Linked DNA regions of Homo sapiens. The protein of the gene in region 1 interacts with the protein of each later gene in a pairwise test. Each region holds a gene or a part of one and is shown in the gene's direction. Other genes may lie near its edges.

Region 1 (11,071 bases):
ATGATGAGTTCATGTCCTTTGTAGGGACATGGATGAAGCTGGAAGCCATCATTCTCAGCAAACTATGGCAAGAACAAAAAACCAAACATCGCATGTTCTCACTCATAGGTGGGAATTGAACAATGAGAACACATGGACACAGGAAGGGCAACATCACACACCGGGGCCTGTTGTGGGGTTTGGGGAGGGGGGAGGGATAGCATTAGGAGATATATCTAATATAAATGATGGGTTAATGGGTGCAGCACACCAACATGGCACATGTATACATATGTAACAAACCTGCACGTTATGTACATTTACCCTAGAACTTAAAGTATAATAATAAAAAAATTTTTCAATGCAAATTGCATATTAAATTATTTTAAGTTTTATTATAAATTGATTTTAATATATTTTTTATATTTTTTGATACATAAATTACATAACTGTATTACTCTCCCAGTAAGAGATGGCTTTCTTACATAAATGGAGAGAAGCCATCTAAAGGTTCTGCACTATATAGCATTCTCTGTTCAAACCAAATATACCGCTATCAGAATAAATAAATAGATTCACTTGGATAGGGCACTTATTTTGTGTTTCCCTTTCCTCCTTGAACTCAAGGAACTGATGGTGATGAAAATGGCATTTTGATTTCTTATGTTTGAAAGTTATAGGAGCCTCTCCAAGAACAACAGTATGAACCTTTGTAGATATAATCCCAAATATGTTAATCTATAGCATTATATTTTCAGAGAACATGATGATAGATTAGAAACTTATTTGATTAAAATAGCCAAAGAAATGGACTTCATTAGGGTTTGTAAATCATGGTCAATAACACTAACAAAATTACTGTTTTCATGAAAATATTGCCCATCCTATTTGAAGATGACATCCCTGATACTAATTGCTATCTATGTGCATGCTGTATAGCTGAAAAGACCTGTGTACAATCAATAGTTCTGTCTAGTGTCTGCAGCAAGATACCTTTACAGCTAAGAACCATAAAGCCTTTTCCCAAGTTGTAAGTAAGTCTGTTTTTACATTAAAAAATGACAGACCATGCTCAGACTAAGTCCATCTAAACTCAGAAGTGATTATCTCCACTGCAAACTAGAAGTGTTCTTTCTTAGAATATTGCTTCTCTGCTGTTGATTTTAACATTTCATATCAGAGCAAGGGGAATCTGTGACTATTAAACTGGCCCAAACTACCTTTTGATTATTTGTGTACTGTCTTAAAATAATACAAGCCCAGTCACATTGACTAGTATCTCCATCCTAATGATTTTCAAATTAAGGAATGGCTTCAAATTAGGAAAGCTCTTTGTTCACCTAGGTTTGGAATAGCATGATGTATGCTAATTGCTAACTTTGTCTGCATTATTTTTTAAAGATCAAATGGGCACAGTGGTAATTTTCATTAATCTCATACAGAGCAGCTAATTAAAATTTCCATTATTACCCATCCATTATCTAGTTGTTTCCTTTGTTCAGTATCAGAACAGGATGTTAATAAGCCATTCTTGTCTTACAGCCCTATTAAGTATTATGAGAATTAATGTATTGCACTATTTTGTTTTTAGGTGATTTTAAAAATATTTTCTTGCACCATATTGATTATACTGAAGGTACTTTGACACCTTGACATTTTGTAATAGAGATTTCAGAATTAAATACTTGTTGCTTTAACGTTTTATTCAATATTGAGCAAAAGTAGTATATAGTAGAGACAGGAGCTATCCAAGGACCAGAATATTTGTTTTAGTCTCATACTCTTACTGATTATGTGAACTTAGGCAATTACTTGGATTCCTCATTTTTGTAATGAGGATATTAGAAGAACTGATCTTTAAGGGCCAGTCCAGCCTTAGCTTGCTATCATATTTTCATAATTTTCAAATATGAACTTATGTTAAAATCTCAAAGTCCTTCTAAGCTTGGTAAAAAGCATCTGTTCTATAAAGTTATATATTCTCTGTCATGCTCTAGTAGATTGTTTGCTTCCATTCCTTATAACCAGAGAGGATCCTAAATTTTATAATTTAAGCTTGTTTCTAAGACTTGGGTGGGGAGTGAGCCACAAAGTGATGGGCTGGCTCACTTGTCCACAAGGAGTACCTCGGCCATAACCATATGTCCCAATTAGACTAATCCTGTAGGGAATCAATTAGAAAAAGGGAACCAACATTTTCTCAGTAGATTATTCTGTGTCCATGAGATGCCCAATATAAAATACCTCTGAGCTGTCCTCAGCATACCATACAGTGTCTCAGTTTACCTGTTCTATATTCAGCATCTCTGAATATATTACAACTGAAAGTCTCAGAACTATAATATTCTGAAGCAAAACTAAGCTTAGAATCTTCAGCATGTTGAAACTCATCACTCATCTACCCTTTTGTTTATTCTCTATCCATCCATCCACCCAACCATCCATCCATTCATTCATTCAGGAAATATGTATTGAATGCTTACTTAAGCACTGTCTTAAGATCTGAGGATATAGTGGTGAACAAGGCAGGCAAGAATCCTGTCATAAGAGCTTATGTTTTAGCGCAGAAGACAGTAAACAACTAAATTACAAAAATAAATTTTCATAGAGGTAATACTGTAAATGATATTTAAAATGGTGTTGCGATGATAACTAGAATGTGGGGTGGGGAGAAGACTATGGAGCTGAGATTAAAATGATGGGAGCCAGCAATGGAGAGGTTGGGATAAGGGTCTTCAAGGCAGAGAAAACTGCAAAATACAAAGGTCACGCAACAGGGTTAAATTCCATATACAATCCTCTAGGGGAAGATTAGTGGTGCCTTTTTATATATTAATTTAGAAATAACTTTGAGGATTATATGAAAGCGGTATGTGACTACAGACTTGAAAATTTTAATTCGTTTTACTAGTAGTTTTCAGACTGGCACATGTAGTAAATAGATCCCTTGTTACTGATGAACTTTGTGTTGTTGTAGAAAGTGAGTTGGCCGAGCAAAAATAAAACTATAATTTTGAATTTGCAAAATTATGCTTTAAATATTTACTTGCTATTATTCCTTGTGAAATAATAGATGGATAAGGAAGTTACAGGAATATGGACATGATCTCTCGGTGATGGTTTTACTTACTGTGCCATTTAGGTGATGATGATTCATCCAGTATACTTTTTTATTTGTGGAGGAGACGGAGTCTTGCTCTGTGGCTCAGGCTGGAGTGCTGTGGCGGGATCTCAGCTCACTGCAACCTCCACCTCCCGGGTTCAAGCTATTCTCGTGTCTTAGCCTCACGAGTTGCTGGGATTACAGGCATGTGCCTCCATGCCAGCTAATTTTTGTATTTTTAGTAGAGATGGAGTTTCACCACATTGGCCAGGCTGATTTCGAACCCCTGACCTCAAGTGTTCCACCCGCCTCAGCCTCCCAAAGTGCTGGGATTCCAGGCATGAGCCACCGTCCCCGGCCCATCCAGTATATTTTTAACGTCTACTGTGTCTCATAACGAAGCAAGAAATACCAAGTCAGTGGCCATTATACAAAATATGGGAGCTCAAAGTATGAAATCGTATTCCTTGTTCTGCAGTTATTATGGAGAAGTTCAATAATAACACACTTTTATTGAAGCTCACTAAATTCATGACCGGTGTTAGTTATGTGGCATAGATGGAGTTCCCAATGTAGAAGTGAGACAGACACAAATAATGACCTCTACCACAATATTTTAAGTGCTATAATAATTATAATATTGCCACAGCGCTAAGGGAATAGAGTTCCCCTATATGTTATAAGCCTTTATCAGACTTTAAAAATTTAGCATCTAATGGGATTTTTGAAATTCAGAAATTAAGAATGATTAACACTTTCTACATTGAGGAGGCATTCTCAATAAAAACCCAAATAGTGTGAAATCATAGGGAACTCATTTCTCATTATTAACATTTTTTTAAATGTCATATCCTCTAATGATAATACCTCTACCCAATGGGGAAAAATTCCTTTCCTTATGATCTCCTTATAATATTATATTTCCTATGATAGTATATCCTTATGATGTTATTTTATAGTAAGTATCCTTAGATGCTTAGCAGAAACTGAGTGTAATTTTTATGAACCTGTAAAATGGGACTCAAGCTTGGAGTCTTAATTCAGGGATATACATTTACAGTATAGGAAAGGGGCAATTATGATTAGGTACGTCTAGAATGTGAAACTATCAGTTGTTAGTATAGTGAATGTGTTGACAATATTTTCCTCCCAGCCTTTTCCCTGAACTACTTATATAGTTATAGCAAGATGATGAAGTTAAGGAGCTGTGATGAGATGAGTTCTAGAAACAACTCCATCTATATTGAAAGTTAAGTTAAAAACTAGTCACTATCAGATAAATGTATTTAATGACTTTTTAAGATTAATCTACAACCTGAGAGTACCAGAAAGGAATAATTGGGAACTGGTGAATGCTTTCAACTGATTTGATTAATTAACATGCTAATTGGAGACTATATTGTTTTACATTTTAATAACTGTTTTCACTTATTTTTTTTAGAAAGGCTGATACTCTGATATCTTTCAATAGATTTGGGTTATGTATAATGGTATATATTAAATTTTATTTGCTGGATTTTGTGGAATTGAATATACATATCTTAACTAGGAAAATTAATAAGATGATTTTTGAATGCTTATCCTCTGGGTTAAGGAGGACTAGCTAATATTAATTCTAATGCCTGAATTGTAAATTTAAGCACCCCTGTCAATGACACTTTATGTAATTCAAGTTCATATTCTATTCAGGTCATGAGCACCAGCACTGTAATTTTTTTTTTAAATGAGGTTGAGGAAAATGTTGAGATATATACAACACAATTTTACTATATCAATTCTGTGATCAAGAATTTTTAAGTGTGTAGCACTCTGCACACATTTTTATATAACAAAATAAATATTCTATGCATTATTTTACTTAAATTTTTTTTGAAACATTGTCTAAAATGGTCTCTTTGTTTATTTTATAGGGTGGGCTGAAAAACAGCAAACATGAATGCACCCTGTCTTCACAAGAATATGTTCATGAATTACGATCGGGTATATCAGATGAGAAACTTCTTAATTGCCTAGAATCCCTCAGGGTTTCTTTAACCAGCAATCCGGTCAGGTAAGTCGTTCTTATCATTTCGGTATGATTCATACAATTTGTAGTGCATATAATTGTTTGGGAATATAATAAGTTTTGTTATTTAAACCTCAAGATTTCCTGACTAAAAATCTGATGTTAATAAAACAGCAGCATCTGATTGTGAAGTCGTAAACTTTTAAAAATATATTTAGTTAGTTGGATCTCTAGTAATGTACAATTTTAAGAATACAAATGTTAACATAGAGCCAGAAGTTAAATATCCACATTTACATGGAAATCTATTTGTGGGATCAGATAATTATTATATATTTATTTATAAAGCAAATTAAGTATATTTGCTCCATGATTTTATTCTTTTTTTTTTTTGTGAGACAGAGTCTTGCTCTGTTGCCCAGGCTGGAGTGCAGTGGCACGATCTTGGCTCACTGCAACCTCTGCCTCCCAGGTTCAAGCAATTCTTCTACCTCAGCCTCCTGAGTAGCTGGGACTACAGGCACGCACCATCATGCCTGGCTGATGTTTGTATTTTTAGTAGGGAAGGGGTTTCACCATATTGGCCAGGCTGGTCTCGAACTCTTGATCTCGTGATCCACCTGCCTTGGTCTTCTAAAGTGCTGGGATTACAGGTGTGAGCCACCGCGCCCGGCCGATTTTATTCTTTTAAAACTTGAAAGGTATATATAACTTTATGTTCTTCTATAAGTTTTAGATATACTCTTCACATATTTCTGTAATTTTGAGATAGCAAAAAGTGAATTATTTTAACCAGTAAAAGAAGTGAGAGCATTAATAAACTTCTCAAAACTCTACTAATTTAGGCTATTAACTAACTACAAAGGATTGTTATTAGGTTACTTGCCAATGGTGGATTCCAGTAACTGTGGTTCCTTTATTAAGCCTTTAAATCAATAACACCCAAAATAAAATGTTTTATAAAGAAAAATAAAATTTCAATAAAATATCAAAACATTCTTGGCCGGGCGTGGGGGCTCACACCTATAATCCCTGCACTTCAGGGGGCTGAGGCAAGTGGATCGCTTGAGTCCAGGAGTTCGAGACCAGCCTGGCCAACATGGTGAAACCCCGTCTCTACCAAAAATACAAAAAAGTCAGCCAGGTGTGGTGATGTGCGCCTGTGGTCCCAGGTATTCACGAGGCTGAGGTGGGAGGATCACCTCAGCCCGGGAGGTGGAGGTTGCAGTGAGCCCATATCCCGCCACTGCACTCCAACCTGGGAGACAGAGCGAGACCCTGTCTCCAAAAAAAAAAAAAAAAAAAAAAAACAAAAAAACAAAAATCCGGGATCTATTTATGTAACTACTAGAATCTTAAGTTCAGAATTTACTCCATAAGAGTATATAAAAAACTTACTGTGATTTTATCCATGTTTTTCCTAATATATAATAGGTCTAAGTCTTGTACTTTTCTGTCCTGTCCACAGAGCCTTGAAAATAATTTAGAGCTCAGTCATTCAGTTTGGATTTATGTATAAATTGAAATATATTAATTACTTATTTATAGTGCACTTGGCAAAATGCCCAGAAAATTACAATTTTAAAACAACAAAAAATTTTTTAAAAGCCAGTGTTAAGATGTGACTTATCTTAGAGTATGATAATCGTTGAAAGACGATTGTCTTGCCATTTCTTCCAAAATGCTCCTAGGTTTTTTGTTTTTTGTTTTTTGTTTTTTTTTTTGAGACGGAGTTTTGTTCTTGTCACCGAGGCTGGAGTGCAGTGGTGCTGTCTCGGTTCACTGCAACCTCTGCCTCCTGGGTTCAAGCGATTCTCCTGCCTCAGCCTCCCGAGTAGCTGGGATTACAAGCCTGCACCACCACGCCTGGCTAATTTTAGTATTTTTAGTAGAGACGGGATTTCACCACGTTGGCAGGCTAGTCTCGAACTCCTGACCTCAAGTAATCAACCTGCCTCAGCCTCCCAAAGTTCTGGGATTACAGGCGTGAGCCACTGCGCCCGGCCTGATGCTCCTAGTTTTAATGGTTTGAATGAACAGGGGACGTGAGTTCTTGAGAACAGTAACTACGGTGGTGCATTTTTCCCCCCTGCACGTAACGTACAGCACTCTACCGTTTTGCCAAGCACTTTGTGCTCCTAAAATTTCTGTTGCATTGTTGTTTGAATGAATGAATAAATGAGTCTTTTAAAAGTAATTGTAGAAGTTGCAGCATTAAGAAATAAAGAGGGGGGCTAGTAAAAATGCATTTTTATAGAGATGTTGGGAAAGGCTTGCTTGAAATTACACGTGGGACTTTTAATAGATAGGCGCTTTGACCAGCTAAGCAACAGGGCTCCCCTCGTGTGGGACTTTTAGAATGTAGCAACCACTGACACACAGGGAAGGATTATGCGATCAGGTGAGAAGGTGGCCGACCCTGACTGGCTGGAAGCAGATGCATTCTGGTAGTTGATTGGTCCACAGGTAGCGTGACGCTTGTCACGTCCTCAGCCTCCCAGCATTCAATCGTAGCCTTTCGGACAGCTCGAAGCCTTCTGTGGAGAGCTCGAAGCCTTCTGTGGAGAACTCAAAGCCGTCCGTGGAGCCCCAGACGAGCCAAAGCCCACCTTCTCCTCAGCCTGAGCTGTCTTGAAGATGAGTAAGAGTGGGTTTGGGAGCTATGGCAGCATTTCTGCTGCTGATGGAGCGAGTGGAGGCAGTGACCAACTGTGTGAGAGAGATGCAACTCCTGCTATTAAGACCCAAAGACCTAAGGTCCGAATTCAGGACGTTGTACCGTGTAATGTGAACCAGCTTCTCAGCTCTACTGTGTTTGACCCTGTGTTCAAGGTTAGGGGAATTATAGTTTCCCAGGTCTCCATCGTGGGGGTAATCAGAGGGGCAGAGAAGGCTTCAAATCACATTTGTTACAAAATTGATGATATGACCGCGAAACCAATCGAGGCCCGACAGTGGTTTGGTAGAGAGAAAGTCAAGCAGGTGACTCCATTGTCAGTCGGAGTATATGTCAAAGTGTTTGGTATCCTCAAATGTCCCACGGGAACAAAGAGCCTTGAGGTATTGAAAATTCATGTCCTAGAGGACATGAACGAGTTCACCGTGCATATTCTGGAAACGGTCAATGCACACATGATGCTGGATAAAGCCCGTCGTGATACCACTGTAGAAAGTGTGCCTGTGTCTCCATCAGAAGTGAATGATGCTGGGGATAACGATGAGAGTCACCGCAATTTCATCCAGGACGAAGTGCTGCGTTTGATTCATGAGTGTCCTCATCAGGAAGGGAAGAGCATCCATGAGCTCCGGGCTCAGCTCTGCGACCTTAGCGTCAAGGCCATCAAGGAAGCGATTGATTATCTGACCGTTGAGGGCCACATCTATCCCACTGTGGATCGGGAGCATTTTAAGTCTGCTGATTGAGGCAGGGAAAACATCCTTTCATTTTTCGAAGACCCTTGCATCCAGCTGTGAGTAATTTTGACCTGTTGACTTTTTAGGAAGTAGGACTAAAAAAAAAAATCTCAAGTGGCATTCTTTGTCAACTCGCTGCTTTTCTAACTGCTTTGAACTTTTCGGATTTTCTGTATTTGAAGCTCAGAGAGAGACGGTGATGGATAAATTGACAACTCTGTAGGATTTACTAGCAAGCTAATGGAAACATGATTTTCGGGGAAGAAAAACTACAGAAAATGTAGAAATTTATTATTTAATTGTGTTGGAGCTTCTTTTTCCAAAAGAAAAACTAGTTGCAGTCAGGGAGCCAGCGAAAAGACAAAAAAAAAAAAAAAAAAAAAAAAAGTCTTGCTTGTTTTTATGTTAGACTTATTTTCCGTGTTTGGATTTAGCTTATTATAATGATACTGTTATCTCTTGCTCAATATAGTATTTAGTATTTGATTAATTCAAATGAGCTGAAGATACTAATTTGTGAATTCTAATGCTCAGTTCAAACATTTATGTGTGATTTGCTCTTATTACTATGAATTTATGTTTTCTTAAAATAAGATTATACTGTGTTTAAATAAACCATTTTTGCCAGGTTATCTTTGAAATTTTTTAAAATGTGGTGAAGTTCAATGATTATTTCATATATGATGTGGTATTTGGATGAAATTACAATTTATTGTAGTTGTATGGTAAATGGATGCCAGAGTTTCTGTAAGTTTGATGTGCTGGTGTATTATTTATTTTACTAAATGCTCTGTTTTATGTATAAAAAGGTAATTTTTAGGACGTTAGGGAAACAGCTCATAGGAATATGAAACTTACTGAGTTTAACACAAATTTATTCAAATGTTTTATTAAAGTAGTTTACAAAATCTTAACTTTCCTGTGTGATTTTTTTTTCTAAGTACATTTGAAAAAGCCTTTTTGTTTTATATCCTTGAGGATTAATAGTTTCACTTATCCAGAATTTTTTCTTTTCTATATATAAAATACCCAGAACATATGCTATAGCCTAGTTCTAACAATACATTTTAGTGTAGATTATATAAATTATGTGAGACTTTTAAATAATTGACCATTAACGAAAGCCCTCAGTTACCTATACACTAAAGATGGTGTCTTTCAAGATGCTAATTTTTTTACATTAGAGGAAATAAAAAACATATACTTTTTAATGAATATATGTTATATTTTATATATGTATATTCATATATAATATACAAATAGAAGAACATTATTTGTCAAATTGAATCATGAAAACTGCAACAAAAAAAAAATCTCTTAAATGGAACATTGCCAGTACTCCGTACTTTCAGGAAAACTTTCAGAAAATGGCCTGTGTCAGTGGCCATTAGAAAAACCACTAATTCTTGCTTAAGCTTTGTGATGCATATTTTTCTTCCCCTTGAAAGTAAAGAAATTGTAAATGGCACTCTTGAAAAGCACAGATGAATAACATACTATAAACCTGTTACTTAAATTATCAGACATTTTGAAAATTCTGGTCTTCATAAACCTAAAATATTCGGAACCACTTTTTGTTGAAAAAGGTTACCTGTCCTAGGGAAAATCATACTGGGGGAGAGGCAACAAGGGGCATATATACTTGGAATTGTGGAGCTGAAAGAGTCTAGCAGATACAATATTCTTTTGTGACATTAAAATCTGATATTTATGAGTATAATTATAGGTCACTCCCATAATTGCTTGAGCTGATTCAGCTGGCCAGTGGATGCGTAGCCACTTGTTTTTCCTATACTAGGAGCATGCGGAGGGGGAAAAAAACTCTTTTTTTTTTGTTTGGGAGGCCAAACTGCTTTTGTCCCTGCAAACTGATACACTGAGATATGTACACCTGAATTTAAGGCAGAAGACCAACCTCTCTCCCATCCTGTGAGGGGAAATGTCCTCTATCTGTGTTCGTTGGGGTTTTTTTAGGCTTTTAAAATTACTCCTCCCAACGCTTATTCTTCTGAATGGAATCGTGTGCTTTAGTGGATTCTGCTGCAGGTAAGAGATAGCAGTGGAAAAATAGTAAGTAGGTCTAGATATAATGTCAGTGGAAATAAAACACTTTTAGGCAGAAAATCACTGGATTGTTTTATACATGTATATTTAGTCCATGTTAAAGGTAGCAGATTTTTAAAGTTCATTTTGAACACCCACCTGGCATGCATACTTTTTCAATTTTGTTTAGACTGGGAATGACTTGGCTAATATCCCCTTTCTCCAAGGTCCTGCCCTGATAGTTAGCCACACCTTTTGAGGATAAGATACAAATCCTGGGGACATACTATTGACTATTTTGGGCAGGGACATTTAAGCCTGAGGAACCTGAAAAACATAATTGATGATTATAATCCACCCAAGGTTTTTTCCTATGGCTCACAGGCTTACGAAATGTATGTATTTATATTGAGGTTGATTCTAAATTAACTATGAATAAATATATTTGAAAGTGTTTTCAAGGCCAATATAATAATCTTACTATGGTCATAATTATTAGTGATCATTTTGTTACTTTTACCTACTAA
Region 2 (11,219 bases), on another chromosome or scaffold:
GACGGAGGTTGCAGTGAGCCAAGATCATGCCATTGCACTCCAGCCTGGGCAACAGACCAAGACTCCGTCTCAAAAAAAAAAAAAAGAAAAAAAGAAAGAAAGAAAAAGGAAAAAGAAAGAGGAAAGCTCCCTCGTGCAGAGGAAGGGGTCCCGAACGGGTTTCCGGGTTCAGGGCAAGAAGAGGTTGGTTTTATAGGAGGCGGTGTCTGATTTACATAGGGCACGAGAGATTGATCAGACCAGGTGTGCCATTTACATAGCATGCTCCGCCTCCCAGGTTCACGCCATTCTCCTGCCTCAGGCTCCCGAGTAGCTGGGATTATGGGCGCCCGCCACCATGCCCGCCTAATTTTTTTGTGCTTTTAGTAGAGACGGGGTTTCACCGTGTTAGCCAGGATGGTCTCGATCTCCTGACCTCGTGATCCGCCTGCCTCGGCCTCCCAAAGTGCTGGGATGACAGGCGTGAGCCACCGCGCCGGCCGCGCCGGCCTCCACCCTAATCTTTTACTAGGCAGATGGGTTTGCTACCTGGCCAGCACCATGTTGCCTGCCTCTTTACTGTGCACGTGGTGACAAAGAAAAGGGAAGGTGGAGCCTCCATGTTGAACATACCTGGCTTCCAAGTGGCCCTTTACTATTGGCACAGCTACCAGCATTCACCTGTGCAAGCTTCCAGCTTGCTTATCTATGTCTGCAGCTCGATCTTTCAGGCTGCTCTTTTGTTAGAAAAGAAATGATTTGGGGGCTGCTTTTTATTTAAAAGGAAACCTTGCCAAGGACTCTCTTAGCCTCACTAACTGCCTAAATTTCTTTCGAGCTCCTGTATCACTTTGAAGTTATAAGAATAAATACAATTTTTCTTGGCATTGTTCCTTCCCATGTTGTAATAATATCGAATCCTGATTCAAGCTGTTATTCAATACAACATAGAACTATTTCTAGGGCATCTAAAACTACCTATGGCATGAGTAATTTTTGCAGCTGGATTGCTCTTATCTCCTCCTCCTCTTCATATTTAGATCCATCCTTTTCTGCCACAGCTTGTTTGCTTTCTGCATCCATAATTTCATTTTCAAAAAAAATTTTAACTGTAGCCATATGCCTGACATATATTAGTTTCTAATTTAAAAAATTATTCGATTTGTCTGAGATACTTAAAAACAAATATACAACAGCAACAAACTATGTTTTATACTATCTCCTTGTAATTAAGGATTTTTTAAGTGATAGTTTTCACCAAAGTTTAGTAAATGGTTAAAATGTAAATTTTGCTCTATGCTATCACGATACTATTTTTTAAATGTTTGATGCTATTCTATTTTATATGACTGCTACTACTGTCTTATACTTCTTTTCCCAAATTAAAACTCAAAACTCTTTCTTACATCTTTTACATCTCTTTACATACTCTGATTCATGGATTACAGGAAGGATATTACATTCAATGGTAAAACTATGACTTTTAGGTCATTTTTTTCTGGAAATTTGTGGATCTTTATTTTCATTTTTAAAAATAATTGCTATTGAAAAACTTTATCCTCATTTGAATGAAAACAGAGCTCTTCTTTGTATTGTTCATAATGGCATACCCAACACCCAGCACAGCACCTAGCACACAGAAATATTCAGATATTGTCGGAATGCATGAATGTTTATATAATTTCATGGAAGCATTAATTATTGAAATAAGAGTGCACTTCCCTAAGTTACTTATCAGGGAACTAGCTTTGGTTATCAGTAGCTTTGAGTTTCAGATTTGGGAAAAAATTCATTAAATTAGCTATTCTAACAGCTAGCTATAAGGTCTATGGTCAACTCTTCTGCTACTACTATTCACCAAGATCATTGATGAAACTGTATTCATAAATCTGGTGAAAACTTTTCAGTTCTTATCCTACTTGTAGTTCACTTTGTCTCAGGTACTCAGAAAAAGGATGTGAAGACAATGCACAGGGAATACAATAGTTTCAGGTAAGTTTATTTTCTTTAACTGTTTCTATGCTGAAGGTGCATATTAATGGTGAGATATTCTATAATTCAGAGTTCATCTCGTAAAACACTAAAAAAAAGTATTTTTTTTAAGTTCTAAGATTTGTGGATTTGCCTACAACAAAAAACTGCAGTTGGTTAGTTCTAGTTTCATTGCTGCCTATGGCAACTGTAATTCCTCTGTAGTTTTTTGTTGTTGTTGTTGTTGTTGTTTAATTCTAGTGCCCCTGTTCTGCTTAGTTCAACCACATGGTACAACAGGTCTGCAAGTGTTACTATCAACTAAAAAAAAAAAAAAAAAAAGAAAAATTTTTGAACAACCAGTTCATGAGGAAATAAAAAAATTACTCTACACAAGTGCCCAACACCCTAAATCCTGACTTTCTCCCAGCTTCCAACCTGTTACTTGCTTTAACCTTCCCCCAGGAAGGTTTTCAGCTGAGGCCTTTATTTGCAGTTAGGGACACCTGATGGAGTTCTAAGTCTTTCTTATGTAAGTCCAACATATAATACATTGTACACAACCTCCAACTGTTTTAAAGCAAATGAGAATTTAAAGATATTTACAAATCAATCTACCACTGATTCCTAGATCCTAAGTCATCTCACCCACACCTAAATTGACAGCTCCTTTTTTATTTTAGCAATTAAACTATATAGATTATTTCTAAAGCATTTAACAAAGTTTCGTAGCTATAAGTACTCCCTCTTTATTCATGTTTAAGTACAACCTCTTAATTCATATTTTAATTAAATCATGCAATTATAATAAACAAGTACATACATTTAGGAGCAAACAGCTTGACACTTCAGCAGCACTCTGCTGGAGCAGCCAAAGAAAGTCTGCTCATCAGAGAATAAACTAGATGCTGTCAACATCCAAGGATTTATAGAAAAGTTGGAAATGCTGGTCAATATGCAAAGTCATATAAGTGGAGGTCAGTTAAGACTGATATGCTTTTCTTTGAGAAAAGGCCATGAATCAAGTCTCAACACATTTCAGGAATTTCTATCATTTGTACCACCCTCTCTGACCACAGGACATTAAATTAAAAATCTTCATCAAAAAGATAACACACAAAAAAACTCAATTTTTGGAAATCTTAAAACATTTAAAAATAACTCAACAAAGAAGTATTGACGATGAAAAACGTGTGGGGCAGGTGTGGTGGCACATGCCTGTAGTCCCAGCTACTCAGGAGGCCAAGGCAGGAAGATCACTTGAGACTAGGAGGTCGAGGCTGCAGTGAGCTGTCTGTGGTCACACCACTGCACTCCAGCCTGGGTGACAGAGTGAGACCCTGCCTCTAGAAAAAATTTTTTTAATTTTTTGAAAAGAGAAAAATGTGCAAAATGACAAACGAATGGAAATAATACAAATTAAAATTTGGAAGCTGCTCAATAGCATTTAAAGGGAAATACAGGGCATTATTAATGAACATATTAGAATTTTTAAAAGCTTAAAAATGATGATCCAAGGACAAACAACCAACTTAAAAAGTCAAAATGAAACTAACAAAATAAACTCCAAAGAAAATGAAAAAGGAAATAATTAAGGTAAGAGCAAGAAATGATGAAACAGAAAATAAAATGCAAAAGAGGAACAATACATCCTAAAACTGGTCTTTTGAAAACACTAAGAAAATAAATAGTAAAGCAATAAATAAACAATATTGCCATGGGGGGGAGGAGCAGAACATAATGAAAATCCCAGAGATTAAAAAATGGTAAGAAGATATCATTTAAAAAAAAAAAAAACTCTGTCTATAAACTTAGATTTGTTTGTTTGTTTGTTTTTGTTTTGTTTTGTTTTGAGATGGAGTCTCACTCTGTCACCCAGGCTGGAGTGCAGTGGCGCAATCTCAGCTCACCACAACCTCCGCCTCCTGGGTTCAAGTGATTCTCCTGCCTCAGCCTCCTGAGTAGCTGGGACTACAGGTGCACGCCACCATGCCCAGCTAATTTTTTTTTTTTGTATTTTTAGTAGAAACAGGGTTTCACCATGTTGGTCAGGCTGGTCTCAATCTCCTGACCTTGTGATCTGCCTGCCTTAGCCTCCCAATGTGCTGGGATTATAGGTGTGAGCCACCGCGCGCGGCCCTAGAATATTTTTTGAATGAGCAATCACCTAGAAAAATATCTTACCAAATTGACACAATAGGCTAGTCTGCAATTATCAACAAATTCATTCGGTACATAAAAGCTACCCACTAAAGAAACACGAGGCCAAGATAATTTTTACAGGTGAATTCTATTAAAATCAAATCTTATACCAATTCTAACAACACTCTATGCCTATTATGTTTCTACAATAAGCCTTTAGCCAACCAGGAGCAACCCAAAAAAACAAAATGTATTGTATGTAGTAGTTCACAATTGCAAACATTATAAGCATTCTTTTTACAATCAAAAGTGGGGAAAAGATGTTTTCTTTGACACTTCTCTTCAACATACTAGAGGTCCTAGACCATGCAGTAAGACCAAAAGATAAAATGAAACCACAAGGATTTGAATGAAACAAAACTCACTATTCACAGAGGTTATAATTACGTACTTAGAAAATTCAAAAGAATCTAAAGATGAATTATGGGAAGTAAATATTTTATCAAGATGGTTGCTACAAGTATCAGCTACATGTTTCTATGCTGGCAACAAACAGAAAATACAACTTTAAAAATATTTACTATAATAATAAAACAAAAAAGCACTCTAAGAATAAATCTGACAAAAGCAGAAATGTGATTTTTATGAAAAATGCATGGCAATTTTACAAAAATGTATTAAGGAAACCTAAGCAAATGGACAGAAATATATTTCTGAAGAAGACTAAATATTGTAAATATAGCAATTCTCCCCTAAATTAATCTATATGTTCAATAAAATTTCAACAAAAATCACATCAGAGTGGGTAGGTTTGAGTGATTATCCATCTGTTATTCATTTTTTATTTATTTGGCATAAGATCAACTGATGCTTCATTATATAGAAAAGCAGAGAACAAAGGAAGGTTGAGATGGTTTTAAAGGATGGTAATATAATGAGCTTTATGACATTGGCTAAGAGAGAGAAAAATAGCCTCATAAAGTAGGAGAACCAAAGATACTATATATGTAAGAGTAAGCTTGGAAGATACGTGAAGAAAAGAAGATGAATTAATCCAAAATAGTACTAAGAAAATAGGTTATCCCTACAAAAAAAAATTAAAATCGGATCGCTATACCACACTATAACCAAAGTTAACCATAGAGCTATAAGAAGATGCTATAGGAAGATGACTTTCTGATCTCCAAGAAGGGACTTTTTAAATCAGACTGAAATATGAAAGTTAAGGAAAAGTTTTATATATTTTAAAACTGTCACATCAAAATGTCTCTTCATTAACAGATAAAAAGAAAAACATAAGTCATTAAAATGCAACAAAATTTGTAACTAGATCCCCTTAGAATCAACTTTTTAAATGACAGACAATACAGCAGGGAAAAGAGATCAATAGTGATTTTACTGAGCAAAAAAACCACATATGACTATTAAACATAAATAAAAATGTCCAATTCCATTATAAACAAGAAAATGTAAATTAAAAACACAAGATACCATTTTCTAACCAACAGACTGATAAAAATTTAAGTCTCACAGTATTACATGTTAAAAAGGATAGAGTATAATATCCTTGAAGTACAATATCCTTAAAAAGGATAGAGTATAATATGAAAAGGATAGAATTTTCATATACCACTTGGGAAAAAAATTTGCCATGATTTACTAAAGTTAACATGTGCATAGCCTGTAATTCCTCCCGGAAATAAAATCTAGAGGAAAGCTCACATATGTGCACCAGGAGACATGTACAAGGATGTTTGTAACAGCATCATGTTGTCTTTTAATTGAACTTTTTCAGATAATTCTAGATTCACAGGCAGATTGGAGAAATTATATGGAAATATCCCATGTAGCTTCTACCTGGTTTACCACAATGGCAACATCTTGCAAAACTATAGTTCAATACCACAACCAGGATATTTCATTCACACAGACCAGATACAGAACATCTCCATAACCACCAGAATCCCCAGTGTTATCCTTCTATAGCCACACACACTTGCCTCTAACTTTCACCCCATCCTTACCCACCGGCGACCAATGATTTCTCTATTTTTTGTGTACAGTTTGGTCATTTCAAGAATGCTACATAAATGAAGTCATACAGTACGTTACCTTTAGGGATTGGCTCTTTTCACTCAGCATAATTCTCTGGAGATTCATCCAGGTTGTTGTATATATCAACAGTTTGTTACTTCTTCTTGCTGAGTATTATTCCATGATATAGATATACCATAGATTTAACCATTCACCTGTTGAAGGATATTTGGTGTGTATCCAGTTTGGGTCTATTATGAATAAAATTGCTATAAATACTCAGTTTTATGCACATATACGTCTTCAATTTCTCTGGGATAAATGCCCAAAGTGTAATTGCTGAGTCGTATAGTAACTGCATATTCAGCTTTTCAGAAACTGTCTATTTTCCAGAGTAATTGTACCATTTTACATTCCTATCATCAATAAGTGATCCAGATTCTCTTCATCCTTACCAGCATTTGGTGTTATTACTATTTATTTTAGCTATTCTGATACAGGTTTGTAGAGACCTATCATTATGGTTTTAATTTGCATTATGGCTAATGACACTTATTCATGTGCTTATTTGCCATATGTATATCCTCTTCAGTGAAATGTCTCTTCATGTCTTTTGCCCATTTTCTAATTTGGTTTTATGTTTTTTTGTTTTTTGTTTTTTACTGCTGAGTTTTGCAAGTACTTATTCTAGGGACTAGTCCTTTCATTTTGGGCAATTTTTGCATAAAGTGTGAGACACAGATCAAGGTGTTTTGTTTTTTCTTCTGCCTACTAATGTTCAGTAACAGCACTGTTTTTAGGAAAACAAAACAAAACCCCAAATGTTCATCATCAGAACAGATATATAAATTGTGGTATATTCATCAATGGAATGTCAAATAAAAATGAAAGAACTAAAGATACATAGAGCAATATAGATGAGACCAGATACATGATACTGAGTGAGAGAGGCAAATTGCTGAAGAACATATTGTACATACATTGTGAGTGACTCGATTTATATATGGTTGTAAAACATACAAAACTACACATATGAAAAATATGTTAACACTATTTAAAAAGAGACCCCAAAAAAGCAGAATTTAAAGAGTGGAATTTACCTCTGAGGTGGGAGTAAGGAGAAGACTTAGAGAACTTCAAGGTTAACAAGAAATTATATTTCTTAAACCAATTGGTGGGTACACAGGTGTTCATCACATTGTCATTCTGAATATGTTCTCATTATTTAAAAAAAAAAACTTTAAAAGGTTATTTTTCAAATTGAGATTTGCATAAGCAAGAGCTAAGAATAATAGCTGGTAAGATGTCACTTTAAAGATCTTACCCTCAGCAGGTAAAAAAACAGTTATTATAAATTGTAATACAGGAACATACCAAACAGACCCTTGTTAGGGAAAGATGACTTCTGAGCAAACAGGTGACTTCTGACAAACCATTCTTATCCCACAAGCCTCATTTTGCCCTTGCAGGCTCAGCGCCTGACTTTTCTTTCAACTTCAAGTCCCCCAGTCATTCACCTTCTCTCCACACAGTTCCTTCTGCTTTGTTTTACAGCATTCTGCCCTCCTCGGGTGGCAATGCTTTAAGTCAACACCAACATCTGACCTCTCCAGCTTATCCACAGGACTTATCTTCTTAAGAGATGGTGTGAGGACAAAGGGTGAGCCTTCCTGACTTGAATTAATGACGACCCACAATTGAACAAGTTTCTAATGTTCATATTTACAAAGAATATAGTCTAGAATCTCAGTTAAATCCATATTAAAAGTAACCCCATGCATAACATTATTCACACATATAATTGAGATAAATCTCAGCACACAGATAGGAAAACAAAGACAGTCAATTTCAAACAACTAATAAAATTATTTAACCATTACAAAATCCCTTAACCATGCCGAATTTTGCAAAATATCTAAGAAATTATTATGCAAGACACTGAAAGATGTGTTATTAAGTAGTTAATTGGTATTTTTAATAGTTAGGACTGTTTTCCTCTTCTGTCTTCTCCTCCTCTCCTCTTTTCCTCCCACACTTTCTCCCTTCCTCTCCCTTTCTCTCTCTCTCCCTCTCTCTCTCTCACACACACACAGACACACAAACACAAACACACACCCCTTGCTGGTTAAAAACTTCTTAAAAACATACAACTGCCTGTATTTGTATATATACATATGCATTTGGTGTCTTGTTATAACTTCCCTTTAAACCACATATTAATGGGCAAAAAAAGTCCTAACATTCTATCTGTTGAAAAGCTGGGTCTGTCTCCAATAAACATAGTTGCTCGTTTCAGTCAAATCAGCTTATTTACTAATTATAAAATATAATTTTAAGATGGCCAAAACGAAGTAGTAGGAAAAGTATATTACTACTTTAATGGAATTTGCTTCTATTTTTGAGGTCTGTCCCAAAAGGACAAATATGTTGACTTATTTTTAAAGGTTTCCTTTCAATGTTTCAAGTTATAAAGCACTGCTGCTTTTGTAAAAGATCCTATTAATTTCTTAACAGAGTGTTAGACCTGATCCCCTTATATCCAAAATGGTAAATGCTGTCTAATAAATACATGGGTGATTGAATAAGGGTCACTGACACTTGGGTAACTGTTTAATACAGAAACAATTTATAATATATATCTCTCTACAAAACTAAAGCTGAGCAATCAATAATTTTGTCTTCCTTCGTCTACAAGTAGCTTATTCAACATTAACTAGTAAACCAAGGGTGAAAGGGAGGGTTGTAAATCACGAAGAAAAGATTCATTTTATTCTTAATTCCCACTTGAATCTATGTAAAATGTTAAGTTACAGACAGTTAAGGAGAAGCTGTTGTGTTTGAATATGTAATTGCTATTTAGATGATAATGGCGTGGATGTCGCAGCAGAACCATGATCCAAATTTGAATAAGGTCTTAATGAAGGAGGCTAAGAGAAGAATGACGACTGAAATACAACAGTGTCAGCAACAGACCTTAATGAAGCAAATTACTTTCAGTACCTTTGTGATTCAGGAGGAGCCGCATTAAAAAAGTGACAACTAAAGGATCAAAAGCAGGACCTTTGCAAACTAAACATGCTTAAAACATGACATCACTGTCTGGGCAACAAGGCATTGTGGAAAGCAGCCTCAATGTTTGGGTTTTACAGCTCACATAGCAAAATAACTACATTAAAAGATCTGGCTAGGCAAACCAGTTTCCTTAGAAAGCATCTTTATATTTCAAGTTAATGACATTTCTGAACAGAAAAGGACTACAAATGCCCAAAGATACCTTGGCCGATTTTTAAAAAGCATTATATATTAACACTAAGAATAGCTTTAAGGCAAAATTAAGCCAGATTTTGGATCACAGAAAACTAAAGAGGTCTTTTTTAAATTCCAAAATATCATTTAGTCTTTTATTATTTGTTAGCTTTATGAAGTATACAATGCATTCTACTTAATAAGTAGTGAAATCACTTTATATATTCATATTTTAAAATCAATTTCACTTTTACAAAATCACACTGAAGCAATTTGAGAGCATATGGCATTCCCACTGCCAAATGGAACATACGTTCAACATGTTTAAATGATTTACCCAAGGTAACATTGCTGATGGTGCTAGAAACTGAACACAAGGCTTCTGGCTTCCAGGGAAAGTCATTCAAGGCAAGCAAAAAGTACCGTAGTTACAAATTTAATTTGATACCTAGAGGATATTTTCTGAAGTCTTCTGAGTTACAGTAACTTGGTGATAACATTCATTCCATATTAATATTGTAGGCAGACAAGGAGTTTATAACCATAATGAATATAATCTTTGCTGTACAGACCAGTATTCACACAGGGTTGTAAAAACTGATTTTGCCTGTTTATTCCATCTCCTCAAATAATGTGCACAAACAGCAATCCTACCAACCAGGGAATGGTAGTACAATAGTTATATATTTATAATCAGAAAACAACTCCTCAATGCTAATTAATTAGTGTCCTGACACAGTCATGTTTCTGTTTCTAGAGACTGACTAAAAATGTTTTGACTTCAAAGACAAGAATGAGACAAGAATATAAGCCTGGCATTAGGAAAGATTTGCTGTCATCTCCCTGGGCCTCTGTTAGGATCTTAGCCACCCCTGCAAATGTTTGTGCTGCAATGGATTTTATTTTAAATCTAAGTAAGTCAAGATGCTCTATCCAAAAAATAACAAAACCAACAGATAGGATGTAGAACATACGGATTAAGAGCACAGACTCAGACAATCTAGTTTAAAATCCCAGCTGTCACTTACTAACCACGCACTCTTACGCAAGTTAGTCAACCTCATCGACACTTTGTTTTCCCATCTGTGAGTTAGAAATAATAGTACTAAGTTCTTAGAGTTCTTATGTAAATGAGTTATTATTAGTTATCTTCATTATTACCTACTAGTATGTGCCTTTGGATGGGTTACTTAAGTTTTGTATTCCTCATTTTTTCCAATTTTAAAAAATGATATCTAACATTTTCAGGCACAATTTAAATGAGGCTTTGGAAACTCTGGAAATATTACATATATTGTTAGCATTGTTATATAGGTTTCATTTTTGGTTTTGGAATCACTGAACCTAGTACAGTTCCCATGCTCTGTTGGTATTTCCTGAACTTCTCTCTCTCTCTTCCAATCATACATGCTCTAACCAGCAAACCCAGACTAGGGTGATAACATGAGCAGCCTCACTACTTCCACCTCTTCTAGATTTTCCCAAAATCTGTACCAACAGATAATTTTTAGACTCTTTTTGATGATTTTTTTCATCTCAGAAGGTGATTATCCGTTTTGTTCTGACTCAACATGGACTTCACATATTTTCACTAATTACTCTCTCTTCCCCAAATCAGTCAACATACACAACACTATTGAGATAATCTACTTTCTTTGTAGCATCCTGACTCCATCATAACTTTGAATGGTGACTTCCATAATTTATTCTAGGGAATAATGACTTCATCCTGTATTTTTCCATGTAAAAATAGCAACAAAGATTTCTAATAAAAGATTATAGAGTACACATACCTTTTTAAAGCAGAGGTTATTTTTTAGAGCAGTTTTAGGTTCATAGCAAAATTG
Region 3 (11,359 bases), on another chromosome or scaffold:
GAAATTTTCCAGAGCTCAGTCCTAAGACCTCTTCTTTCCAGAAGAAATCTCATCAGTACCCACAGCCTTAATGGCCATACATGTCGATGCCACACAAATATGTATCTCTAGCTTATACCTCTCTCCTGCTTCTTGAGAAAGCAGAATATCCACCTGCCTTCTCAGTGTATCTACTTGGAAGACTTACAGGAACCTGACAATCAACATGTCCAAGACTGAATTCATCATCTCCCCTTCTAAACCCCTCCATGACTGGAACCATTATCCATCTATAGCTGTGTAAACCAGTACTTTCTTCCTCACACCTTCTCCCTGACCCAGTCCCAATCCATTACCAGATCCTATTGAATATACATTCCTAGTATCTCTAAAATATTTCCATTTTCCCCATCTGCAATGCCACCATTGTAGTTCAAGCTACTACCATTTCTGGCCTATTACAAGTTTCCTAGGTGGCCCATACACTGAAGCCATATTTCAAAATCTAAACTGGATCGTGTCATCCAGCTGGCTAAAGCCTTTCGATGACTTCACACTGCCTACGAGGCCTACTGGCCTCTGGATCTCTCTTACCCTCATCAGTATCATGCTGCTCCTTCTCTAGGCATTTCCACACAGGCCTCCTCTCAGGCTCTCAAACCCGCCCAGCGTCTTTACTGACCTGATCCCCCCACCCCCAACACACACACCAAAGGCTCTTCCACAGCCGCCCCTTATCCACCTTCACCTGCAGCTACTCTAGCTCGTTAGCACTCAATGCAAGCAGCATTTCCTCAGGGAAACCTTTGTAGCACCTTCAGAACAAGGTCAGGTGCCAGCTCATAAGCTCTCAAAGATCCTTCTGAGACAATACTATAGTTTTTTTGTTTTTGTTTTTTAAATAAAGAGATGGGGTCTCACTATGTTTCCCAGGCTGGTCTCAAACTCCTAAGCTCAAGCGATCCTCCCACCTCGGCTTCCCAAAGTGCTAGGATTACAGGCGTGAGCCACCGCACCCGGCCACTATAGTTTTAATTGTATATTCATTAGTGTGATTATTTGATTTGCTTATCTTTTCCACTGAACCTTAAAGTTCCAAAATCAGGGACCGTGTGCATTTGTGTTCACCCATGGATCCCTTAACCCTAGCACAAAGTGTTTACACATGGTAAACACTCCGGAAATGGTTATTTTTTTCTGAGACGAAATCTCACTCTGTTGCCCAAGCTGGAGTGCAGTGGCGCGATCTCAGCTCACTGCAACCTCTACCTCCCAGGTTCAAGCAATTCTCCTGCTTCAGCCTCCCAATTAGCTGGGACTACAGGCATGCACCACGATGCCCGGCTAATTTTTGTATTTTTAGTAGAGATGGGGTTTCACTATGTTAGCCAGACTGGTCTTGAACTCCTGACCTTGTGATCCACCCGCTTTGGCCTCCCAAAGTGCTGGGATTACAGGTGTGAGCCACCGCGCCCGGCCAACACTCCGGAAATGTTTACCGAAACACGGACAACCAGGCATGACACTCTTGGAGATTACATTCACTTGGCTCATGTCCACAGAAAAACCCACATTACCGCAATAATAATCGTGAGAAACCAAAATTCTAATTAAATAAATTAGTCCTAATAATTAGCACGTGATTAACTGCTTTATTCACCAATCTCTATTTATCCAACAACTATGCATTGAGAATTTACTATGGACCAAGGACCGTGCTGGAAGTTATTCATACTGTGGTGGCAAAACGAAGTCCCTGTCCTCACGGAGCTTACAAAAATTAATGTCCAACCAGGAGGTGATCTGAAAAGCACGCACACATAGAATAATTTAGGGTGGTAGAGGAGACGCCTCACCAAATTCTACTTTATGGAAATTCTATATTACTAAAACAGTAGATATCAATATTCCCAAAGTTTCTGAGATAAGTAGGTGTTCAAAACAGTATCATGCTGCTCCTTCTCTAGGCACTTCCACACAGCCCTCTTCTCAGGCTCTCAAACCTGCCCAGCTTCTTTACCGACCTGATTCCCTCTACACCAAGGGGGTAGCGTTGTTGTTTAGCGTTGCTACTACAGAAAAGAGGGAGTGTATCTGCTGGGCCTGCTTTACCTTGGAAGTTATGATTGCATCTCATCCTAGCCAGTCAGCTTTGTCCCAAAAAAAGTCAAAATCCCTGCCTATTTGAATAAATCATCTGGTTGCAACTACAACTCCATGTCCTTCCTTCTCAAATGAGTGGGGAGAATTCAAATAATAAGCAAAAAACTGAAATCAAACAAGCAGAGGGATAAAACCAGTATGGGTAACAGCTAAGTGTTTAAATATTGTTTTGGGTAGAGAATAAGGAGACTGGTCTAAGTCTCTTGATAATCCAAAACTTCCACCTCATCACTTACTTTAACAGAAATGAAATAAGGCCTGGACTAGAGAACAGGTTACTCCTGAGTGTAGCATGTTTCCACTACATAAAGTCACCAAACTTATTTTTAGTCTTAAAGTAACAATAAATCTTACCCCATATACTTTTATTATCTAAAGTCTCAGCTTAAGTCATCTTAGGCTGAATATAGTTACTTCTCTGTTATCAATGATAATGATGACCCAGAGAAAAATAGGATAACCAAATTCACTGACGCGCTCAGAAATTCTTTTTAAAACTGTAATTTAAGTTAGGTTTTATGGCAAGCTTTCCCAAAGTACTAACGTAGAACCCTTTGGATTTAGGCATCAGGCTTGAGTAAGTATTTCAAAGTTCTAAAAAGTATTAGTAGCAAAGAACATAAAGTCACACAAAACCAGAACTGTCCACAAATATTACTAGGCACTAAAGAAGAAAGCAACTTACTCCTGGACAGAAATTCAAACGCAAATCTCAGTTTCCAAAGGATTGACTAAGGACTAAGTAAAAGTAATAGTTTCGTAATTCTAAGCAACTCTAACAAGCATTCTTTAAACACCTTCTACATTTTAAGACACAAAGTATGTAAAGAATTAAGCCTTTCATTGAATATTTCCTATATATTAGACATGTGCTAAATGCTTCACTTGAAAAGTCTGAGTTCAATACTTTTCCACCACAAAAGAAATACTTTTTCCACAACCACAACTACAGTGCTATTTTCACCTCCATTTTCCAGATGAAGAAACAGAGGCAGAGAATAAAGTGACTTGCCTAAGGTCACAATATTTATCATGGCAGAGCCAACACTCAAAACCAGTTCTAGCCAACACTAAAGTCACTGCCCTACACTGGCCCTCCCTCAAGAGTAATGCATACATGGCCCAAAAAATCCGGGGAGAGGAAAGGGACCTCCCTGGCTAGAACCGCAGTTCAGAATATAAACACTGAGCATATGATGGATGCAACTTATCCGTTTCAAAAGGGGTGGGAGCCTAGAAACGAAGCCATTTTTCCTCCTCGAATAATCTTGGCTGCCTGTCCCTTTGTCTTCAATGTTAGTTCCTTTCACTATTCTGCTCCCAAACAGGCCAGGTCCCACGTCAGTTCCAGGAGGAAAGGGCTCTCTCAGCCTGCGGGTCATCTTTGGGCAGCAGCAGGAAGGAGGCGGCGACCCTCTGAATACCTCCTTTGGACTCGCCATCTGGACGTAAAGGGTTCGCCTGCTCCATCTCAGATTCCCAAGGGCCTTCCCATGAAGTTGTCTAGGCAACCGGTGATAGGGACTCCAATGTCCTTGCTAATAAAAGAAAAATGGCAACAGTCACATCACATCTAGTCCCATTCAAACCCAGACGGCAGGGCACACACCACTCAGGCACAACCCCTGGGCCGCGGATGACACAAATGTCACGGCTAGGATCCCCTTTCCTGAGCCGCCCGCCCTCTCCCATCGTCCGAGCCAGCAGAGTCCATGCCCACCCCCGCGCCCATCCCGCGGCCCCGGCGCGCTCCCGAGGCCACGGCTACTCTGGTCCAGCGGGCTTCCCGGCCACGGAAGGAGTTTTAAGAAGGCCGTTCAGCCCGCCACCCTGGCCACGGTCCGGTCCGACAATGGGTCTTTCCCCTACCTTCTCCCTTCTAGCTCACCCAGGCCAGAAGCGAGAATTCCCGCCATCCACGTCTTCAAAACCAAACCAACCGGTCCCGGCGTGCTTTGCGATCCTGCCGTACAAAAGCATGGCGGCGCTCAGGGCCCCGCCCTGATCCCAAGATGCACCGGGGAGTAGGTCCGGCCTTTCGGGTGGTCAGGAAGATGGCGGCCTCTGGGGCGGAGCCGCAGGTCCTGGTACAATACTTGGTGTTACGAAAGGATCTATCACAAGCTCCGTTCTCCTGGCCGGCGGGCGCACTGGTAGCGCAGGCTTGTCACGCGGCCACCGCGGCCTTGCACACTCACCGCGACCACCCGCACACAGCCGCTTACCTCCAAGAGCTGGGGCGCATGCGCAAAGTGGTCCTCGAGGTGAGGCACTCGGGCGGAGGGGGAGGTGCTGAGACATCGAGGGCGGAAGTGGGTGTGGTCTTCGGTCCGAAGGCCTGGCTGCGGGGAGTGGGTGCGGCGGGAGTTGGGGTGATCGTTAACATTTAGACTGGAGCTGTTTCCCTGGAGGTGCGCCCTTGGGAAGGGCCTGACTGTGTGAAGAGTGGACAGCAGTCCTCCGCCCCCTGCTGGGCTCGCGGTAAAGTGGTGGCTCCTGTGTCCCCGCTGTTCCGCCTGTGCACTGGCCGACTTTTTAAAGCCATGCCCCAAAGTGCTGTCCTCCTGCAAAACCGAGCCCGAAGGGACAGTGCAAAGTGAAGTCAAACTGAGTATTTACCTGGGTAGGACGCCAAATTATTTGAAAATAAATACTAAAAACGTTAGTATAAATTGAACCTAGCTTCAGCTAGACCAGGCACCAGGTGTGTAAATCGGTACACCTTTTAAAATAGCAGTCAGGTTCTGTTTGCAGATGACCAAACAAATCTCACCCTTACCCTTTGACTCTCTATCCTGCTGCTAGAGATGTAGCCTAAGAAAATAATCAGATGCACCCAAAGAGCTTTGCACAAGGATATTCATGGGAGCCCTTATGGTTTTGAAGCATATTTAGTGGTCGGGAAGAGTGCTCATGATGCGAAGCTAACTGAACTATATATACAGAATGATCCAGACTTTGAAAGGAAAAACTAAAGAAATACATCTACATATTAAGTAGTGCATGGTGAGATTTTGGTTATTTCCTAATGCTTAATCTGTATTTTTAAAATTTTCTACCTTAAGCACATATTTTATAATAAGGAAAAACGGCTTTAATAATAAACGGCTTTTTATAATAAGGAAAAACGGCTTTAAGCCAGAACTCAGGTGGAGGGGTGGAGTAATCCCTTCATGGGTAACTGACAAAGATAGATTATCTTTCAAGAGAAAAATTGCTGCTGGATAGTGAAACATCAAGCGGTAACCTGTAGGAAAAATGCCTTGAGAATCTGTGTAGGCAGAACAGAAGCTGCTGGCTTTTCACTTAGATTTTCTTCCTAGTAAGAGGTCTCAAGAAATCAGGTTAGACTCCTCTTGTCGCAGGTGAAACTCTCTGAAGCCTACAGGGATTAAGTGACTCCCCTGAGTTTAAAAGAGGGTCTCATGATTCTTAGTTGTTAGTCATGACTCAAGAAAGGGACTTAGGAGTCGCTACTGATTACATTGAGGTGCCGCTGTAGTCAGAAGGGCCAATAAAATATAAGAAAATACCAGGATTAACTACATTTATTGAGTGCTTAGTGTGTGCCAGGCACAGGTCCAAGCCTGATTTCATTGATCCCCATTAGGAAGCATTATTCCTGTTTTATAAAGGGACGAAGAGGCCAGCGAAGTCACCTAACTTATCCACGATCACACAGTCAGCAAGAGTTTGGAGTCCAGTAGTCTGATTCCAGAGCCTCACTGTATCTCACTATGCTCTGCTGCTGCCCGAGGCTGAAGAAGCTGATGAGTCCTCCAGCAGAGCTCTGCCAGAAGGACTCAGCAGGTTAAGAGTCGCAATACTGGCATTCTCTAATTTATTAAAACAAGCCTCTGAGTAGCTTAGTGGCTTCTGCCTTCATAGGTAAGAGATAAACTTTATGCAAAATAACACAAAAATAATAATTTTCTGAGTGATCGTTTTAATACTTCCTGGAATGGGATTCAGCATGGGTGAATTGGCAGTAAGGATGACCCAGAAACAATTTCAGAAGGATGTTAGAGAATATTGTACTCTCCCTTTAATAAACAAGTGGGAGCCATCCCAGCAGAAGGAAAACCCCTCTAGGTTTCAGTGAGGTAGAGTGGGAGGGGTGGAGGAAAGTGGAAGTGGATGTGCTTTTAGAAATCCTTCCACTAGGGGCCGGGCATGGTGGCTCACTCCTGTAATCCTAGCACTTTGGGAGGCTTAGGTGGGTGGATTGCTTGAGGTCAGGAGCTCCAGACCAGCCTGGGCAACATGGTGAAACCCCGTCTCTACTAAAAATACAAAAATTAGCCAGGTGTAGTGGTGTGCGCCTGTAATCCCAGCTACTCGGGAGGCTGAGGCAGGAGAATTGCTTGAACTCGGGAGCCAGAGACTGCAGTGAGCTGATAATCGTGCCACTGCACTCTAGCCCAGGCGACAGAGCAAGACTCTGTCTCAAAAGAAAAAAAAAAAAAAACTTCCACTAGGCAGCTCTTAAAGTCAGAGGCACTTAAAATTATGGGCGCCAGCCATAGGAGAGCTGGAAAATGTATAGAGCAGAATTACACATTACACATGTGTGTGTTGGGCATACAACATCTCACAAGGGAAGATACAAATCTCCATTTTCTAAACTGGAATATGAAGCCTCTCTCCCCTCCCCAGTGCACCACGGAATGACATCATTGCTCTGCAGCTCCCTCCTTGGTAAAGCTGTTACTCCACTTTCAGGCAAGAGGACTCCCGAAACCTTTTTTGGCCTTTTGACACTTCCTAAGTGGGCTATTCAGTTTGTGTTCTGTGTTCTTCTCCTTTAGGCCCCAGATGAGACCACCCTAAAGGAGCTGGCCGAGACCCTGCAACAGAAGAACATTGACCACATGCTGTGGCTTGAGCAACCAGAGAATATCGCCACTTGTATTGCTCTCCGGCCCTACCCCAAGGAAGAAGTGGGCCAGTATTTGAAGAAGTTCCGATTGTTCAAGTAACTGCTGCTTTGATGTGTTTGAATACGCAGGCCACCCATTCCAAAGCATCATGTGTTCCTTGCAGTGTCAGCTTGCTCCCGTCTTTCAGTTGTGACAATTTCTTGAGGGTTAAGCACATGTTCATATTAAAGTTGTCATTAATAACTACTTCCTCTTATTAATAAGTTCAAGTGGGGAAGGTGGGAGAGCAGTATTGTCTGGGGATCATTGCTCAAATAGAAGATTTGGTTAGACTCTCCTGTGGGGCTCAAGGAAACTCCCTTCCAGTCACTCGGGTTTGAAACTTTGCTTTTGAATTCCTTCTTATTCACATCCAGTTATCATATTTCATTGAATCTAAGATAACATCAACTTTAAGATGCGGTAGTATTTTATGTATTGTTAAAAAATATGCCGGCAAATTAAACACTTGTATTTCAATAACAAAGATGTTAAAATTTGGCCAGTGTGGTGGCTCACATCTGTTAATTCCAGGGTTTTGGGAAGCCAAGGCAGGAGGATCGCTTGAGCCCATGAGTTCAAGGTTACAGTCAGTTCTAATCATGCCACCGCACTCCAGCCTGGGCAACAGAGTGAGACACTGTCTCTATAAAGATTAATAACAAGTTAAAATTTGTGTGTGTCTATATATATGTACATACATACAGATTTATTAGATTCAATGAAATCTGTCAAGTACTACAGCTGTTTTCTTGTCATTTCAGTGCCGTTGCCCTGTGTCAGCCTCTCATTTTGCTCACTGGCGTGTCCCACGGTCTGTTCACCGCCAGTGTGACACTCCAATCCAGCAGCTGCTTTGCCACCACATAGGACGACTGAACACCTACCTGTGTAGTCTAGGCTCCTCTCTGCCTATGGAGTAATCCCAGCACTCCTTAGCTTAGACTTCAGGCCCTCCTCATGTGTATTTCCTACCTATCTTTTTTGTTTTTTCGAGATGGAGTCTCTCTCTGTTGCCCAGGCTGGAGTGCAGTGGCGCCATCTCTGCTCACTGCAACCTGCGCCTCCTGGGTTCAAGCCATTCTCCTGCCTCAGCCTCCCGAGTAGCTGGGATTACAGGTGCATGCCACCATAGCTGGCTAATTTTTGTGTTTTTTTAGTAGAGACGGGGTTTCACCATGTTGGCCAAGCTGGTCTCCAATTCCTGACCTCAGGTGATCCGCCAGCCTCGGACTCCCAAAGTGCTGGGATTACAGGTGTGAGCTACCGTGCCCGGCCTCCTACTTATCTTTTTAGTTGAATCTTCTATTCCCTTATTCAAACTTGATGTTTCCACAGAGTCCCTCCAGTTGCTATTCTCCAGTCTCTGGCATGGGAGTTGAATGTTACTACTCCTCCCCTCCCTTTCCTGCCCCTGGACTTTACTTAAACTATTTCCAGCTCAAGTGCTATCACTGCCAAAAATTCTTACCAAGCCAAAAATGATAGTTCCTTCTCTGAACATCTGTAACACTCTGTACAACGTTTACAATATTTCTATAAACATTTGGACACATCTACAGAAATTGCTTAGACATCTGTGAAGCAAAGTTTATAAGGGGTAATTTGTTCAACAGATATCTATTGTTTGTCTGCTGTGGCAGGCTGTGCATAAAACAGTTTTGCCCTCAGGTAGCTAAGAACCTATACGGATATTACCCGTCCCCCTTAGATAATGTTCTGCTAAGATCCCAGATAAGATTTCCCTTCATGGGCCCGGTGCAGTGGCTCATGCCTATAATCCCAGCACTTTGGGAGGCTGAGGTGGGAGGATCACCTGAAGTCAGGAGTTTGAGACCAGCATGACCAACATGGTGAAATCCTGTCTCTACAAAAAAAAAAAAAAAAAAAAAAAAAAAAAAGATTTCCCTTTAAGAAAGGTGGTCACCTGAATCAAGGAGAGTGGATGGGTCTCTCTCACAGGGAGAGTTGGTAGAGTGCTGAGGGCAGAGCCAACCCCAGGAAGCCAAGTGAATGAGGAGTTGAAGGGGTAGAGAACAATCAAGTGCAGCATAGAATGTCAGTAAATAAAACGTGGAAACATTTAGCAATTGGGAATGTACTGGTGAACTTAGTGAAGTTTAAATAGCATAGTGAGGGTAGAAATCAGATTGTAACATGTTGAGACAAGAATGGGAGGCCAGGCGTGGTGGCTCACACCTGTAATCCCAGCACTTTGGGAGGCCAAGGCAGGCGATCACGAGGTCAGGAGTTCGAGACCATCCTGGCCAACATGGTGAAACCCCGTCTCTACTAAAAATACAAAAATTAGCAGGGTGTGGTGGCAGGCGCCTGTAATCCCAGCTACTCGGGAGGCTGAGGCAGAAGAATTGCTTGAACCCGGGAGGCAGGGATTGCAGTGAGTAGAGATCGTGCCACTGCACGCCAGCCTGAGCGACAAGAGCAAAACTCCGTCTCAAAAAAAAAAAAAGAATGGGAGGGGAGGGAGGTAAGAGGTGAGAAGTGTCCTTTCCAGAAGCTTGAAAGGGAGGAGAGAGAGGATAATGACTGAAAAGGGGCTGGAAAGATCAATGCTGGGTCCCCTAGTGGGGATTTTCTTAGATCTTGAGCAGGATGATGGGTGAGGAGGAGAAAGTAAGGAGAGGAGAGATTAAGAGATTAAAGTTCCCAAATAGAATAACTGATGAAGTCCAGAGAAAACAGGAAGAGATGGGGTCAAAGGCTACGGGAAGAACTGGCCTTGAACTGAGAGAGGGGAAACTTCTTTTCTGAGACTGGTGGAAAGGCAGATGGTGAAGATATAGATGTACGTAGGTTTAATAGATTGTAGGAGAAAGAAAGTTGAAGTTGACCATACCTGCTGACTTTTTTTCTATTAAGTAGGAGGCATATGCACTATACTCAGCAAACTAAAGCAGCAACAGAAAACCAAATACCACATGTTCTCACTTGAAAGTGGGAGCTAAATGATGAGAACACATGAACACACAGAGGGGAACAACACACACGGGGACTGATTGGAGGGTGGGAGGAGGGAGTGGATCAGGAAAATAGCCAGTGGGTTCTAGGTTTAATACCTGAGTGATCAAATCTGTACCACAAACCCCCATGACGCAAGTTTACCTATAAAACAAACCTGCACATCCTGCACAGGTACCCCTGAACTTAAAAGTTTAAAAAAGTAGGAGGCATACGATCTTTCATAACACTGAATAAACTTATTGAGCACTATATTAGCTAGCATAACAGTGAGTAGGAGCCTAGGCTTTGGTGTCAAACTGCTTGAGTCCAAATCTGGGTCTCATACTTTCAAGCTCTGTGGACTTGGGCAGTGACTCTATTTCCCTGAGACCCAGTTCCCTTATCCGTAAAGTGGGGATTTAAATGTGTTTGGATGTACAAACCCCTTAGAGCAGTGCCTGGGACTTCGTGCTAGAACCTAAACTTGGGAAGATGCAGATGGCACAGCCGTCAGAGCTGCCCTCCAAGAGTTCTCCATCAAGTAGGCCATTGTCTACCCCTTTCTGTTAGGGAGTGATGCCATCCAGGAATCATCAAGTACCATTTCCATTCAAGCCAATTAGGAAAATGTTTCTAAATGACACTGCATCTTAAAAAAAATTAAGTTCTGAATTCTTCAGTAAGACATAGTATAAAGCTAGACAGGCCAGGTGCGGTGGGTGGCTCACGCCTATAATCCCAGCACTTCAGGAGGCCGAGATGGGCGGATCAAAAGGTCAGGAGTTCGAGACCAGCCTGGCCAACATAATGATACCCCGTCTCTACTAAAAATACAAAAAAATTGCCGGGCGCAGTGGCTCACACCTGTAATCCCAGCACTTTGGGAGGCCGAGGCGGGCGGATCATCTGAGATTGGGAGTTCGAGACCACCCTGACCAACATGGAGAAACCCCGTCTCTACTAAAAATACAAAATTAGCTGGGCGTGGTGGCCTGTAATCCCAGCTGCTCAGGAGACTGAGGCAGGAGAATTGCTTGAACCCAGGAGGTGGAGATTGCGGTGAGCCAGAGATCGCGCCATTGCACTCCAGCCTGGGCAACAAGAGTGAAACTCTGTCTCAAAAAAAAAAAAAGTTAGCCAGGCATGGTGGCACGTGCCTGTAGTCCCAGTTGCTCGGGAGGCTGAGGCAGTAGAATCTCTTGAACCTGGGAGGTGGAGGTTGCAGTGAGTCGAGATCGTACCACTGCACTCCAGCTTGGGCAACAGAGTGAGACTTTGTCTGGGGGTAAAAGAAGCTAGACAGAAATGAGACACAGCTGGGAGTTAGCAGATTTAGG

What was found.
Region 2: the proteins of RPA4 (region 1) and RPA3 interact in binary tests that used the Homo sapiens proteins (3 or more experiments, as listed by UniProt).
Region 3: the proteins of RPA4 (region 1) and PTRHD1 interact in binary tests that used the Homo sapiens proteins (3 or more experiments, as listed by UniProt).

Annotation. Positions count from the first base shown.
Region 1 is NC_000023.11:96,876,587-96,887,657, forward strand, and holds RPA4 (replication protein A 30 kDa subunit), read left to right. Parts: upstream 1-7,321; 5' UTR 7,322-7,724; coding exon 7,725-8,510; 3' UTR 8,511-8,881; downstream 8,882-11,071. Other genes in the region: DIAPH2 (protein diaphanous homolog 2), read left to right, coding at 4,993-5,132.
Region 2 is NC_000007.14:7,705,927-7,717,145, reverse strand, and holds part of RPA3 (replication protein A 14 kDa subunit), read left to right. Parts: intron 1-1,919; 5' UTR 1,920-1,971; intron 1,972-11,219. UniProt on the Homo sapiens protein: As part of the heterotrimeric replication protein A complex (RPA/RP-A), binds and stabilizes single-stranded DNA intermediates that form during DNA replication or upon DNA stress.
Region 3 is NC_000002.12:24,786,173-24,797,531, reverse strand, and holds PTRHD1 (putative peptidyl-tRNA hydrolase PTRHD1), read left to right. Parts: upstream 1-4,140; 5' UTR 4,141-4,154; coding exon 4,155-4,406; intron 4,407-4,456; exon of another isoform or gene 4,457-4,846; intron 4,847-4,947; exon of another isoform or gene 4,948-5,148; intron 5,149-5,752; exon of another isoform or gene 5,753-6,940; intron 6,941-6,950; coding exon 6,951-7,121; 3' UTR 7,122-7,804; downstream 7,805-11,359. Other genes in the region: CENPO (centromere protein O), read right to left, coding at 3,567-3,612. UniProt on the Homo sapiens protein: As a putative peptidyl-tRNA hydrolase, it might be involved in releasing tRNAs from the ribosome during protein synthesis. Some evidence, however, suggests that it lacks peptidyl-tRNA hydrolase activity.